Linked DNA regions of Homo sapiens: regions 1 and 3 are each reported to be linked to region 2. The links are microRNA targets in miRTarBase. Many come from high-throughput screens and were not tested one by one. Region 2 holds a microRNA gene; each other region holds the end of a gene's coding sequence.
The links. Region 2 holds the annotated microRNA hsa-miR-4481 (GGAGUGGGCUGGUGGUU, at 5,603-5,619, opposite strand). A microRNA usually pairs through its seed, bases 2 to 8, with sites in the 3' UTR of a target mRNA and lowers its output. Matches are read on the target gene's strand: a 7mer-m8 pairs with bases 2 to 8, a 7mer-A1 pairs with bases 2 to 7 and ends in A, and an 8mer does both.

Region 1: the mRNA of CARD10 is a reported target of hsa-miR-4481. Seed matches in the 3' UTR shown: 7mer-m8 at 2,595-2,601 and 7mer-m8 at 2,130-2,136.
Region 3: the mRNA of SIT1 is a reported target of hsa-miR-4481. The part of its 3' UTR that is shown has no 7-base or 8-base seed match.

Annotation. Positions count from the first base shown.
Region 1 is chr22:37,488,369-37,491,368 of GRCh38, forward strand. It overlaps CARD10 (caspase recruitment domain family member 10), which reads right to left. Exons shown (of 20, transcript NM_014550.4): 20 at 1,994-3,000. The coding sequence ends at 2,791. Among named protein-coding and RNA genes, the nearest start is that of MFNG, 3.5 kb to the left of the region's middle.
Region 2 is chr10:12,647,579-12,655,198 of GRCh38, forward strand. It overlaps MIR4481 (microRNA 4481), which reads right to left and starts at 5,619; the gene lies at 5,560-5,619. The region is part of intron 2 of CAMK1D (calcium/calmodulin dependent protein kinase ID); the gene reads left to right.
Region 3 is chr9:35,647,378-35,650,377 of GRCh38, reverse strand. It overlaps SIT1 (signaling threshold regulating transmembrane adaptor 1), which reads left to right. Exons shown (of 5, transcript NM_014450.3): 3 at 1-21; 4 at 133-194; 5 at 297-1,083. The coding sequence ends at 530. LOC101926948 (a long non-coding RNA gene) reads right to left here. Exons shown (of 2, transcript NR_135130.1): 2 at 2,902-3,000. Among named protein-coding and RNA genes, the nearest start is that of SIT1, 2.1 kb to the left of the region's middle. RefSeq lists an enhancer at 647-696.

The DNA.
Region 1 (3,000 bases), not on the chromosome of region 2:
ACGGGGAACAGGCAAAGGCAGCCAAGTCACAGGCCCCTGCCTTTCCCCAGGCCAAGCACTGGGCCAGGCTCACTGTGGGGCAGGGGGAGGTTCATGTACCCAAATGCACACAGCCCAGTTTCCATGCCCAGGAAGCCACAGACATCGAGAGACAGCCACACAGACACCCTCGTCCCACCACAAGGCAGAATATGGCATGGGCCAGGAGAAGTCCCAAGGGCTGGGAGGACCTGGTGGTGGGTTTCATGGAGATACGTAATATCTCAGCCAGGCTTCAAAGATCAGGAAGATTCAGGCAGGGAGAGCAGCCCAGGCAGGGGCCACATGAGCAGAGGAGCACAGCTAAGGGTAAACTGAAAGGCCACTGCCACTGCCCGCGGTGGGGAGGATGTGGCTGGGGGGATGGGAGAGTCAACACCTGGGAAGGCCTGGAGTAGAAAGCGGCATTGCCGCTGATTCCCATGCAGGGAGGCTGCCCTTCCCCCAGGGCACCGCCTTTGCCACTCAGGGTCCAGCTCCCCAGCCCCTACCCCAGTGGTGACAGACTGGCAGGCCTCCAAGTCCAATCTGCACCTTGTCAAAGACACCCTGTCGTAGAGAGTGGGAAGACCTTTTCCCAAGCAATGGCTCAGCCCCAGCCACACGTGCTCACCTAGCCGTGGCCAATCCGTACCTCCATGCTCACTCCACCATCCGGGCCTCCACTCCACAGGGGAGGGCCCTGGGCCCAGAGAGGCCACCCGAGTTGCCAGGGTCTCCTGGCTGACCAGAGCTTTGGGTTTCAACCAAACTACAGTGCCCTGCGCACCCTGCACTCCATCCTGGGAAAGCCTCTCTGGGTTCCCGGGACAGCCTGGGCCCACCGTCCACCCTGGCCTCATACCCAAGCACCGTCATCCTGCGTGGTCCAGTCTCTGAGACCCTCACCACCTCTCCCCTACACCCACTCCTTGTCTCTTCCCACTAAAGATGGGGCTGTGGCCCCCTGATCCACACCCCAATCCCCTCTCCCAGCTTCTCCATTCCCTTCTCCACCCACCACCCCAAATCCCCAGCCCTGACCCCTTCTTAAGCATTTTTCTTGTCAAACATGGAGATCCAGACCCACCCCTGGAGGCCACAGATCCCCTCCTTCCTGTCTGCTCCTCTCTCCTCCACTGCCCCTGCCCCCCACCCCCTACTCCAATTGGCCTCAGCCCTCTCTAAGTCAACTCCAAACCAGAGCTCCCATAGCCCTGCTCCCACATCCTGAGAGGCTCCCACAGCCTCCAGGGCACAGCCCAAGCTCCTTTGCGCTCCCAACCCCACCCCTGGACTTGCCCTTCCCAACCTCATTTCCGACCCCATCCAAGGTGGCCAGATCCAACCCATGTGCTGCCTCTGAGCTTTCGCCCTTGAGGCTACCCTACCTAGTTAGTACACCCACAACCCCAAGCCCCAGGGACCTGCCCAGCCTCATCACTGTGGCTGAGGACAGTCACCTGCACTTGGACACGTAGGTCCAATAAGTGGTTCCTGAAGAAAGGAATCCCAACTCCCAAGCTCAAGTGGCACTTCTTCCAGTAAGGCTGCCTGGATTGCTCCCAGTGGGAGCAACCATCCTCTCTCCAGTAGAGCTGTCTCAGGAACCTGCGTGCATACCAAGGGTTTGCTCTTGAGCTCCTGGGCTCAGCAGCCAGGCCCCTTCAGTCGGAGGCCACACCCTGCCAGTTTTGGTGCCCTGCTCCAGGGGACACTCCTCTGATGATCAGCTGTGGGCAGGGCTGAGCGTTGGGGTGGCCCATCTGTGGGGCCCTCCTCTGGTCATTCAGGGGCAGGTAAGGTGACGCCAGCACAGATGGCGGGCGGCTCTGGGAAGAGGCAGGCGGGAAATCCGACCCTCCTGACAGGCAAGCGGGGACCTGAAAGGTGGTATCCGCCTGAGCTGGGAGACAAATGAGGAGAGTGATGGGGACCCAGGCCAGGGATACAAGCAAGCAGAAGGCCACCAGCATCTATGACAAAAGTGTTTAATGCTCCATAATGTGCAGCTTCTAAGTGAAAAAGGCCCGTTAATCATCCACGGGCCGTACATTCTCATGACAGAGCAGCCGCCCTCCTCGGCCCCCCAAGAGGGAGGCATAGGCAGGGAGTGGGCCCTGTGAGGCACGGTCCTGAGTGTGCCCGCCAGGAACGCACACGTGTTAGTGCCCACATGAAACAGGGGTGGGGCGTGACATTTACACAGGAGAGAACCACAGACACCCATGTGAGGAGACACGAGGGGCACAGGTGACCATGGGCCAGGGAACACCCCAGTCCATGCATGGCTGAATCCACGAGGAGCGCGAGCTGGATGGTGGGAGTCACGCGGTAACGGGCTCAGGTCTCCTAGGAGCAGAACAGGCCCAGGTCCTCAGGAGACCTCGTGCCCAGGGCAGCGGGACAGACCTGAGCCTGCCCATGAGAACTTGAGTGTGCAAACCTGCGCACAGGTGTGAGAACAGACTCCAGGGCGAGTGTTTAAGGAGAAGACACAGACACACATAAGACCCACTAGTGGGAATGTGGAGACCCCAGGAAAGGTGGGGAGGCCCAGAGCAGCAAGTAGAGGGGAGTGGGCACTCTGTCCCGGGACTCCCATAGGCTCGGCAGGGCCAGAGACAGCCTTGGGGGTGAGAGGCCAGAGCCAAGGGCCCTGCATCTGAGAGTCCAAGGGTCTAGGAAGGCTCAGGGTGGGAGGGCCCAGCTTCACCATAGACACCAGGGTCCACGCTGGCTTGGGGAGAAGGTGCAGGTATCAGATGAGCCTCAGGCCTCACTGCTGCTGGGGCAGCCTCTGCTGCTGCCGCACTCCACCCACACGAGGCGGGCCTGCTCCTGCAGGATGCGGCCGCGCACCACCTTGGCCAGCTCCTCTGCGTGTCCCCACTCATGGGCGGGCACCTGCACCCAGGAGCAGGGCAGCCCCCAGAGCACCTGCTCTGAGCCACGGCACTGCCGCAGCAGCTCTGAGTCCCG
Region 2 (7,620 bases):
AGGGAGAGAGGCTGACTTTCAGTTGGGCGGGAATTGTTCTGTATTCCAGAAGAATGTTCCATTCTTAGACCTGGGTAAGAGGAACCCCTGCTTTAGGAGATTCTGTCCTGGCCATGAGCCAGCCATGCCCTTCCCATGGAGTGAGATGTCTGCAGGGTGAAGGACATAGGGCCAAGGACATCTTTCCACCCAATGCTTGTGGGTGTGTGCTTACTCAGGAGTTCTTGACCTCAGAAATTCTTCTGAAGCAACTTTGAATGCACTTCTGGGGCCCATATGGACTGCTTCCTGGGACCCTCCTCCTGAGAGCCGGCAGCACTGTTGATGGGATGTCCTTAGGCCAAGGCAGGTCTGTGTGCAGGTGTGCAGATGGAGCTTGGATCTGCAGGCCAAAGTTCTGGACAGTCAGAGATAGGATGCAAAGCATCGAGGAGGCCACTCTTGCCATGATGCCATCTTGCGAAGAGTCCAAGAATTCAAAATTCAAACCTGGTAGAGGGTAGAACATTCTTTATTGAATCATTTGCTGTTTTGATTTATAACTTTATAAAAAAGCTATTTTTTATAGACCTTAAAGACATTATATTCCAGGACATACAGCCATTGTAACCAGCTAAGAGTTCGTGGGGCACTCACTTAATTCTCCCGTCTGTAAATGGAGGGCTGGCTAGAATATTGGTTTCCAGATTTACCTAATCATTAGAGTTACTAGAGACTTTTAAAAATGTTCCTGATTCCCAGGTTCCCCCTGCCTAGCGATGGCGTTTCAGTAGGACTGGGTAAGAGCTGGTAATGGTTATGTTTTCAGTGCTCCGCAGGGATATTGATGATCAGTAATGGCTACTCCGCTAGATGGACTTCAGTGTCTTTCGCTTGCTATTTATTTATTTATTTACTTACTTACTTTTTTGAGATGGAGTTTCGCTCTTTCATCTAGGCTGGAGTGAAGTGGTGTGATCTTGACTCACTGCAACCTCCGCCCCCCAGATTCAAGCGATTCTTCTGCCTCAGCCTCCCAAGTAGCTGGGATTACAGGCATGCGCCACCATGCCTGGCTAATTTTTGTATTTTTAGTAGAGGTGGGGTTTCGCTATCTTGGCCAGGCTGGTCTTGAACTCCTGACCTCAGGTGATCCACCCACCTCAGCCTCCCGAAGTGCTGGGATTACAGGTGTGAGCCACCACACCCGGTCTCTCTTTTTATTTAATCTTCACTTCAAAGATCCTTTTTTAGTACGTGTAGAAATCAGGGGCTAGTGTTCATCTGAAGAGATTTTGTATAATAGGCATCTGTTTGAATTTATTTTTTAATTTTTTGGAGACAAGGTCTTGCTCTGTTGCCTAGACTGGAGAGCAGTGGTGCAGTCATAACCTTGACCTCCTGGGCTCAAGTCATCCACCGCCTCAGCCTTCTGAGTAGCTGGAACTACAGACACCCACCACCATGCTCAGCTAATTTTTAAAAATGTTTTTACAGACCGGGTTTTACTATGTTGCCCAGGCTGGTCTTGACCTCCTGGCTTCAAGCAGGCCTCTCACTTTGTCTCTCGAGTAGCTGGGATGACAGGCACGTGCTCCCACACCCAGCAACTCAATATCTTTTACAATCTGTGCTTTGCCAAGTTGGCGTACACACTAACACAGAGAGGCAGTTTACACAGAAAGTTCATTACCTTGACTCTGCGCTGTGTTGTCAGGTTCCAAGTGTGAGTGAATGTTAAGATAGGAAGAAAAGAGCCAGCAGATAGATGGATGTGTGTCTGAAAGAAAGGGGAGGTCGGCTGGCAAATGGCCAGGAGCTGTGTGCTGGGGGGAGCCCATGGGAACTCGATATGGGTTAAGGCTGGTCCCCTCTGCGTCCACGGAAATTCCACCAAGTAGCTGGTGCCTTCTGCATTCAAGGTGTTTGTTGTTAAAGAGGAGAAAATCTTTCAGACATGTACAGGGTATTTTCTGAAGACACAGGTATTCAGTCAATGGTATTCTAATTCTGGAGATATAGGAATACGCCAAAGAAAGAAACCCCAGATAATGACAGATCATGTTTTTGTTTTTTGTTTTTCTTTCCTCTGGCAGTCCCCCTTTTCTTTAGAAACAAAAAAAAATGTTGGTGAAAAGAATAATGAAGTTGACATGTTGCAGGATACGTTTTGCCATCATCACCTCTGAAGAGCTCCTAACTCCAACTCATTCTCCAAGGAAATCTCGACATTTACACTCTGGTCAAATGGACTTTCTCCACTTGTTCATGATGAAACAAAAATGTATATCAACTTTTCACTTGGGAAATTAAAAGTGGAGTAAAGTGAAGTTCCAAGTTTCAAGTCACCCCATGAGTGGGAGCGAGAGGGTCAGGACTCCAAGCAGGGTTTCCCAGGAACGATTTCACCGTGTTCAACTTCAGCATCTCTGCAAGAGAAAACACCGCCTTTAGTTTTTCTGGAGCTGAAGTTTTACACTTGGCATATTACTTTTTAGTTCCTTTAGGATAAAACCCGCACAGGTGACCTTGGTGACAAAGCCCCTCACAGCAGTCCCTCCTCTACCCTTGGAGGGGCTGCCGACCACGTGAGTGTTCTGTTTGGCTGTAGTGCCCTCATGCTTCTCTGCCCTTGCTGATGTGGTTCCCTCTCTCTGACATGCTCTTTTCCTTTGCCTTCCTGTGCAGGGCTCACCAGCCCAGACTGGAGCGCAGATTGATCCTGGGGAGCAGCCCGACCAGCGTGCCAGGGGCAGGGTCAGATGCCAGGGCAGGGCTGTGCCCGCATAGCCCTGTGTCTGGCTCTCTGGCAGGACATTGGTCGTGCTGTGTCATGATGTTTACGTACACTTCTGTCTTCTCACACTGGCCTGGGAGCCACCTGGTTTCAGGGACTGTGTTTTATCTATCTTCAGGGCCCTGCTGCCTAGCCTCATGCCTGGCACTCCTGGGTCCCTTCTCTGTGTTTTATGAAGCCTAGGTTTGTGGGTTTTATGTGAGGTGTCTGCACACAACGTGCCGCAATGCCGTTCCAGGGTCCCTCATGTGCAGTGGACATGGCAAAAGGGCAGTGGGGACCATAACAGACTGTGCCTCCCTGTCCCTCCCCTGCCCACTCCACCCGCCCCAATCTGCAGCGCAGCTGGAGCATCCTTGTGCCGCGTTCTCTTGTGATGTCCTAACGGCTGTTGTATTAAGCAGAGCTTTCATGTGTTTATTTATTATCAAAAACATCAGCTCTGCAGACACTTAGTCCACCAGCAGCATCATCCCTCACTCTACAAGGATAAAAAGAGAGAGGAAAAAGGATGCATGGGGAAAAAAACCCATCAGGGGGTTCATCTCGCCCCACACCCTTACTGCAGGGTTCCACACCTGCCAGTCTTCCTCCCCCAGATTCGAGTTCGCTTCCCCTAAGGCTCCCTGGATTAAGCTTCACACATCCCGACGGGGCTTCATGAGACTGGGAATGAATCTGGAAACAGGCTTTTGCCGGCTTTTTACGATTTACGGCACTTTGCTCCCACCTCCTCCTTCCTCCCCGTGTTTCTTTACCCCTCCACTGTTTTCAGCGTCCTCCCCCTGAGACAAATCATTCTGCCAGGTTCTCTGCCTGCCTAGTGAACTAAACAGTAACGGCTTTGCGCCCCAAGCCCCACCTCTGATGAAATAGCAACTCAAACACTGTGGGTCCAGCAACTGTGGGACTTTAAACTGGGCTTAAGGAAGGTGGCCAGACATTTATGCCTACATACAGACAGGTGTGTGTATGCGCACATCTCCGCCTTTGGCCCACTGTTGGCTTCTTCCTGATTTTAACACAACTTTTAATTTTATTTTATTCATGTTTTTGAAATGGAGTCTCACTCTGTCACTCAGGCTGGAGTGCAGTGGTGCAGTCATGGTTCATTGCGGCCTCAACTTCCCAGTCTCAGGAGATCCTCCCACCTTAGCCTCCTGGGTAGCTGGGACCACAGGCACGTGCCACCACACCCAGCTAATTTTTGTATTTTTTTTTTCTTTTTGGAGAGACGGGATTTCACCGTGTTGTCCAGGCTGGTCTCAAACTCCTGGGTTCAAGTGATCCTCCCGCCTTGGCCTCGCAAAGTACTGGGATTACAGGCGTGAGCCATACTGCCTGGACAACTTCTTTTTTGTTTTTAAAGAAACTGTAAAGAGGCCAAAGATTTAGGACAAAGGAGCTCATTACCATCTTTGGAAATAACTTTTTTTTTTTTTGAGACGGAGTCCCGTTCTGTCGCCCAGGCTGGAGTGCAGTGGCGCGATCTCGGCTCACTGCAAGCCACCTGCCCTGGGTTCACGCCATTCTCCTGCCTCAGCCTCCCAAGTAGCTGGGACTACAGGTGCCCGCCACCACGCCCCGCTAATTTTTTTGTATTTTCAGTAGAGATGGGGTTTCACTGTGTTAGCCAGGATGGCCTCTATCTCCTGACCTCGTGATCTGCCCGCCTCGGCCTCCCAAAGTGCTGGGATTACAGGCGTGACCACCGCGCCCGGCCGGAAATAACTTTTTGAGGGAAGATCTTCTCTTTGTATTTGAAAATGTGTCAGTAATAGTCTTTACTAGTTGGAGTGGGGAAGAAAGCTTTTAATTTCACTTTTGAATTGTTGATTACACTGGTTCCCTCCACTCCCTTGCCCCCATCTTTATTCTGTTTTTTGTTTGTTTATTTTTCTTCACTTTTTAGTAGGAGAGTCTTCTTTAAAAACAAATTCCCTAGGGCTGGGTGCTGTGGCTCACGCCTGTAATCCCAGCACTTTGGGAGGCAGAGATGGGCGGATCACAAGGTCAGGAGATCAAGACCATCCTGGCTAACACGGTGAAACCCCGTCACTACTAAAAATACAAAAAAAAAAAAAAAAGCCGGGCGTGGTGGCGGGCGCCTGTAGTCCCAGCTACTTGGGAGGCTGAGGCAGGGGAATGGTGTGACCCCACGAGGCGGAGCTTGCAGTGAGCAGAGAGTGCACCACTGCACTCCAGCCTGGGCGACAGAGCGAGACTCCATCTCGAAAAAAAAAAGAAAGAAAGAAAACTAGGTGAATAGTAACGAGTTTATTAGCCACAACCTATTTGTAATGTCATTCCTGAGAATTTGCAAATAGCCCTGGAGGTTACACTAGGAAGTTTCTTGAGTTGACATCCTTGATCATAGTCTTTTATTAGCAGGATATAATAGAACTATAAGCTCAGACCACCTTAGCATTTAACAATGATCTATCATAAAACTGCAATTTGGAGAGGTGGATGTGTATTACACACCCCTCGTTTAAAAAACATCAACAAAGCAAAACATGCTGCTCTTTTTAATTGTGACTCATCTCAGTTATGAAGAAATTAATTCTTAAGAAAGAATACGGTGTCTTAGTTCGTTTTCTATAACTTATAACAAAATAGCTGAAACTGGGTAGTTTATAAAGAACCTTTTCTTTATTTCTTACAGTTGTGGAGGCTGGGAAGTCCAAGGTGGAGGGGCTGCATCTAGTGAGAACCTTCTTGCTGTGGGGAACTCTTTCTGCAGAGTCCTGAGGCATTGTGGGGCATCACATGGCTGGGGGGCTGAGCGTGCTCATGTGCTAGCTTAGGTCTCCCTTCCTCTTAAAAAACCACCAGCCCACTCCTGTGATGACCCATTAATCCACAAATGGGTTAATCTATTCATAAGGGCAGAACCCTTGTGATTCAGTCACCTCTAAAAGGCCCCACCTCACAATACTGCCACATTAGGGATTGCATTTCAGTGTGAGTTTTGGAGGAAACAAATATTCATACCATAGCACAGAGTTGTCCTTATTATGCACACTGATAGAGATGATCAGAAAATAAGAAATTATGTTTAAAAACACACATACAATGAACCACAAACACCCTAATTCATTCCCAACATATGAGTGCTTGAAAGATGTTTTCTTCCATTGGAATGTGCCTGGTTATCTGAAGCCTGAGTGTGACCTGAGCCAACCATGTGACAACGTTAATTACTGATGTGCAAAAATTAAAGAACACTCAATTCTGCACCATCATCTCTGAATGTGGGCACTTTCCCAGAATGATGAGGAACATTATACAGTATGAGTTCAATCCCCCTAAGTCTGACAGTGAACTGAAATTAGATGGTTGTTCAAAACAGACTTCCCTCTCTGTTTTTCATCTTACTATTTTCATCTCATCTTTTTCTTTTACAATTGGCTTCCCACTTTCTAAATAAATGTTGCCATACCCCAGTAGCTTTAGTGCAATGCCTAGGATCATTTTGGCCTGTGTTCCTGATGCTTCATTATCTCGTTTGAATGAAAGAGCAGCACTGGGTCCTCCAATTTCAGTAGGTGCTATTCAGGGCACCTGTTGGCTTGACATGGTCATGGGTTTGAGTTGTGAAATATGGACCCTTCCATGTGGGTATCAGCACAGAGAAAGCACAGGACATTAGTGGTAGGAAAGAAAAAAGAAACAATACCTTTCCCCTAGATTCCAGTGCATTATTTTGTTTCCCTTCCACTTACTTATCCTCATATAAATGCAAGTGTTCAGAGCTAGAAACCTCAAAGATGCTTCCTGAATTCAAGCCCAGCGTCTTCAATCTGGGGCACAGAGTATGTGAAGGAAGCTGCAGGATACACCCCAGCAGTTCTGTGTCATTAACAGTATTTCATACAGGAATAGCTTCTAAATTCACCTTGTAAGCATCCACAGTGAATCTGAAACAAGCTTTCTGAGATTTCCCTTTCTAAGGTGATTTGGTGTATGTGGGTTCTCACATCAGTGAAGCTAGGAAATCCAAGCTACAAGAGTTAATCTCTGTTTCAAGGCGGGTAAACACCTTAATGTTTTCTGAGACTCCTGGTGCTAATTTTCATGTTTAAAATGCCCACAGAAATATATATTACCCTTTGACAAAAAGTTACCAAAAGATTCAAAGAAGGAAATGACAGTATTCCTTTAAATGTGTTAGTGTTTCAAAGTCTTGCTAAGAAATAGTAGAAGAAGTATTACTAATACTACTTGCTAAGAAATATTAGTTGCTAATACTATTATACTTGCTAAGAAATGTTATTTTTTTCATATTCTTATCCTGAGAGGAGTAATGGGTTGGCCATGTAGCCTTAAATCTTTATCCTTAGGACACCCTGGATCTTAACCTTTAAAAATCAGACTTATTATCAAATAAATGTATTCAGCCTAGATAAATTTAAAATGGGCACGGAAGCCACGAAGTTATCAGCTCTGAAGTATCTAAAGTTGAACCCTTTCCCATGACCTAAGATTCTCAGTAATTTAGTAATAAATGACTTACCAGTGGTTCTCAAACTTGGCTGCACGTTTGAATCACTGGAGAAACTATAAAGAACTTGTTACGCCTAGGCCACGCCGCAGGCCAATCAAATCATAATCTCCAAAAATGTTCCAGTTATTAGTACATTTGGAACTCCTCAGATAATTCTAGCACGTATCTGAGCTTGAGACCCATTGGATTAGGCCGTTCCTGCATTGCTATACAGAAATACCTGAGCCTGGGTAATTTATAGGAAAAGAGGTTTAATTGGCTCACAGTTCTGCAGGCTGTACAGGAAGCATAGTGCTGGCATCTGCTCGGCTTTTAGGGAGACCTCAGGAAACTTACA
Region 3 (3,000 bases), not on the chromosome of region 2:
ACCTGCATTATCTACAGACAGGTAGGGAGCTGGCAGAGAGGAGGGGCACAGAGGCCAGGTCCTGGGTGGCTGGGATGGGGGCGTGCAGGAGGAAGGACAAGTTGCTGACCAGATTCCTGTTCCCCGTCCCAGGACGGCTGTCTCAAGACCCAGAGCCAGACCAGCAGGATCCAACTCTTGGAGGCCCTGCCAGGGTGAGTCAACTGTGGCTGGAGAAAAGGGGGAGGGAAGGAAGTGGGGGGCTTTTCGGGCTTTTCCGAGGGTCCAGTGAACTTCTAACAGCCTTGCATCTCCAGGCTGCAGAGGAGGTGATGTGCTATACCAGCCTGCAGCTGCGGCCTCCTCAGGGTCGGATCCCCGGTCCTGGAACCCCCGTCAAGTACTCGGAGGTGGTGCTGGACTCTGAGCCAAAGTCCCAGGCCTCGGGCCCCGAGCCGGAGCTCTATGCCTCAGTATGTGCCCAGACCCGCAGGGCCCGGGCCTCCTTCCCGGATCAGGCCTATGCCAACAGCCAGCCTGCAGCCAGCTGAGATGGAGGGCCTGGCACAGCGGGGCGTGCACTGCCCCAGCCCCCCGTAGCAGGGGCATGACTGTTTCCCAACCAGCACCCAAAGACGGGCGCCATTGCCAAGTCACAGGATGTGATCTACCCCGGACTTCCTATCTGAGCTTCAAGGGAGACATCTCAGGGCAAAGCTTTCGTGATGGAGGAGGCAAAGACAGTAGCCCCCTCCTTATTTCTTTTTTCTATCTGTTCCTCTTAGCCCCCAAACTCCCAGGTTCTCACTTCCTTCTTCTGGAGTTTAACCAGATCCTCCCCACCCCCGCTCCCTCATAGTCTACCCCCACGCCTCAGTGTCTCCTCAGGCACAGGAAGTGGGCGGTGGGGGAGGGGTAAGGGCCTGACAGTGGGTGGGTGGGTATATTCCTCAGGAGTCCACAGACTGGAGTGGACCTGGAACTTAGAGACGGGAGGGACCCGAGCCTGGCTTTTGACCTAAGAACCCTAGCAGGAGAATACAGTCTCCATCCTGCTGTCTCTGTCCTGTCCCCAAGTTTTCAAATAAAACTTTCCAAAAAGTGTTTAGATTTTTACCTAGAAGGCTGAAGACTTGCAAAGGGCCCTGCAGATGGGGGTGTGAGCTTTGCTGTCTGCACGGAGCTCTTTCTGGGGGTGCCTAGCTGGGGATGAGGGGCCAAGAGGGGCTGCGGCATCAACAGTGCAGAGGTGGGCACCGGGGTGGAGGGCCAGAGCCCAGCTCCTCAGCTGCTGTTGCTGCTGCTAGAACACCCCTGGGATCTGCACTCAGAGCCACTGCATTCCCCCTGGGGCTGCAAGCTCACAGTCCTGAGCTACTCTCCCCTTGACCTCTATAACTGCCATCACCTCCACAACCTGCCAGCCTGGTTCCTTCATCAAGTCCTCCAATCTGACCTCCGTCTGTCCGCTATGAGTCCCACCTATACCCCTGTTTTGACATCAGTAGCCTTATCTGCACTTAGTCATCGTATACCCCTAGAGGCCTTCTCCTTACCCCATCACTATGGCAGCGGTCCATCTCCACTCACTCTCTCCCACTCTGGCCTCCCAAAGTGCTGGGATTACAGGCATGAGCCACCGTGCCTGGCCTTCACTCTCTCAGTTGTCACCTGCAGTCTTGGCAACAGTTTTGCTTGTCACCACTTTCATTTTAATCCCCATCTAATTTGTCCTGCCTGTCCACCCATCACCTGCTGATTCTTAACCCCAGCCTCCTACCCCATATAGCATGCTACATCAGCCAGTTGGCACAGAGATTAGGACTCTGGGCTCAGGAGCCGGACTGCCTGCATTCAAATTCCATGTCTACCACTTACCAGCTGTGTGTTCTTGGGCAACTGTGCCTCGGTTTCTGAATCTGTAAGATTGAGAGGATATTAACGGTGTTTACTTCAAAAAAAGGTGGTTGTGAGGCTGAATGAGTTACCATTTGTAAAGCACTTAGACAATAAATGCTCAATAATGCTAGGCATTATTAAAATAAGAGAAATACAGGATCCTCTATGGGAGCTCATAGGTGAAGTGACTTCTAGGTAGAGACATGACACATAGTAGGAATCTGCCAGGAGAAGCGAAGGACAGAAAATGCTCCAAGGCAAAGGGAACCACAGGCAAAGGAGAGGCTTATTCAGAGGACCTGGCAGAAGTGCATTAGGCACAGCGGAGGGTAGAGTGAGATGGGGGCAATGGTAAGATGAGGCTGGAGGGGCAGACAGAGCCAGATCACACTGCGCCCATAAGTCATGCCAAGGAGCTTGGGCTTTATCCTGCAGGGGAGGTGAAAGGGAGTCACTGAAAGTTTTAAGCGAGGGATGAACACAGTGAGTTAAAGGCTCTAACTCCACTGGCTGCTGTGCTGATCTAGTGGTCAGCAGTCTGGAGTCAGGCGGCGCCTTTCAAAGGCTATTGCAAGATTTGAGTGAGAGGGGATGGCGGCAGTAGCGGTAGGGATGCAGAGGAGGGATGGATTACAAAGAGATGTTTAGGGTTTTTTTTTTTTTTAAAGGCCCCACCTATCACATCTTCCAGATTTCTGGTTAGAGCCTGTAACACCCCCCAACCCAAATCCTCATCATCATAATACAGCATAGCTCCAAGTTGGTTTCAGCTCATCACCTTCCTCACCTGGCAATCTCTCTCTCTCTCTCTCTCTCTCTCTCTCTCTCTCTCACAAACACACACACACCCTCCACCCCTTAAGCCCATCTGTGATCCATCTGTCTAGCAAAAGCTCCAACCTGTCAAACCTCTTCTAGGATATTTCAAGGTCTAGACCATCTCCCCAGGGCCTCTGTAGAGGCGGGCCGCGCTTGACAGATCTTTCTGAGGCTTGAGGGGCTGAAGAAAGGAGAAGCTGAGGCTTTCACTTCCAAGCTTCTCTTCTTCCCACTTGGAGTGCCACAGGAAGCCACAGAGGAGGAACCCGTGCGCCTGATTCCTGCCTGGTGGTCCCAATTTGA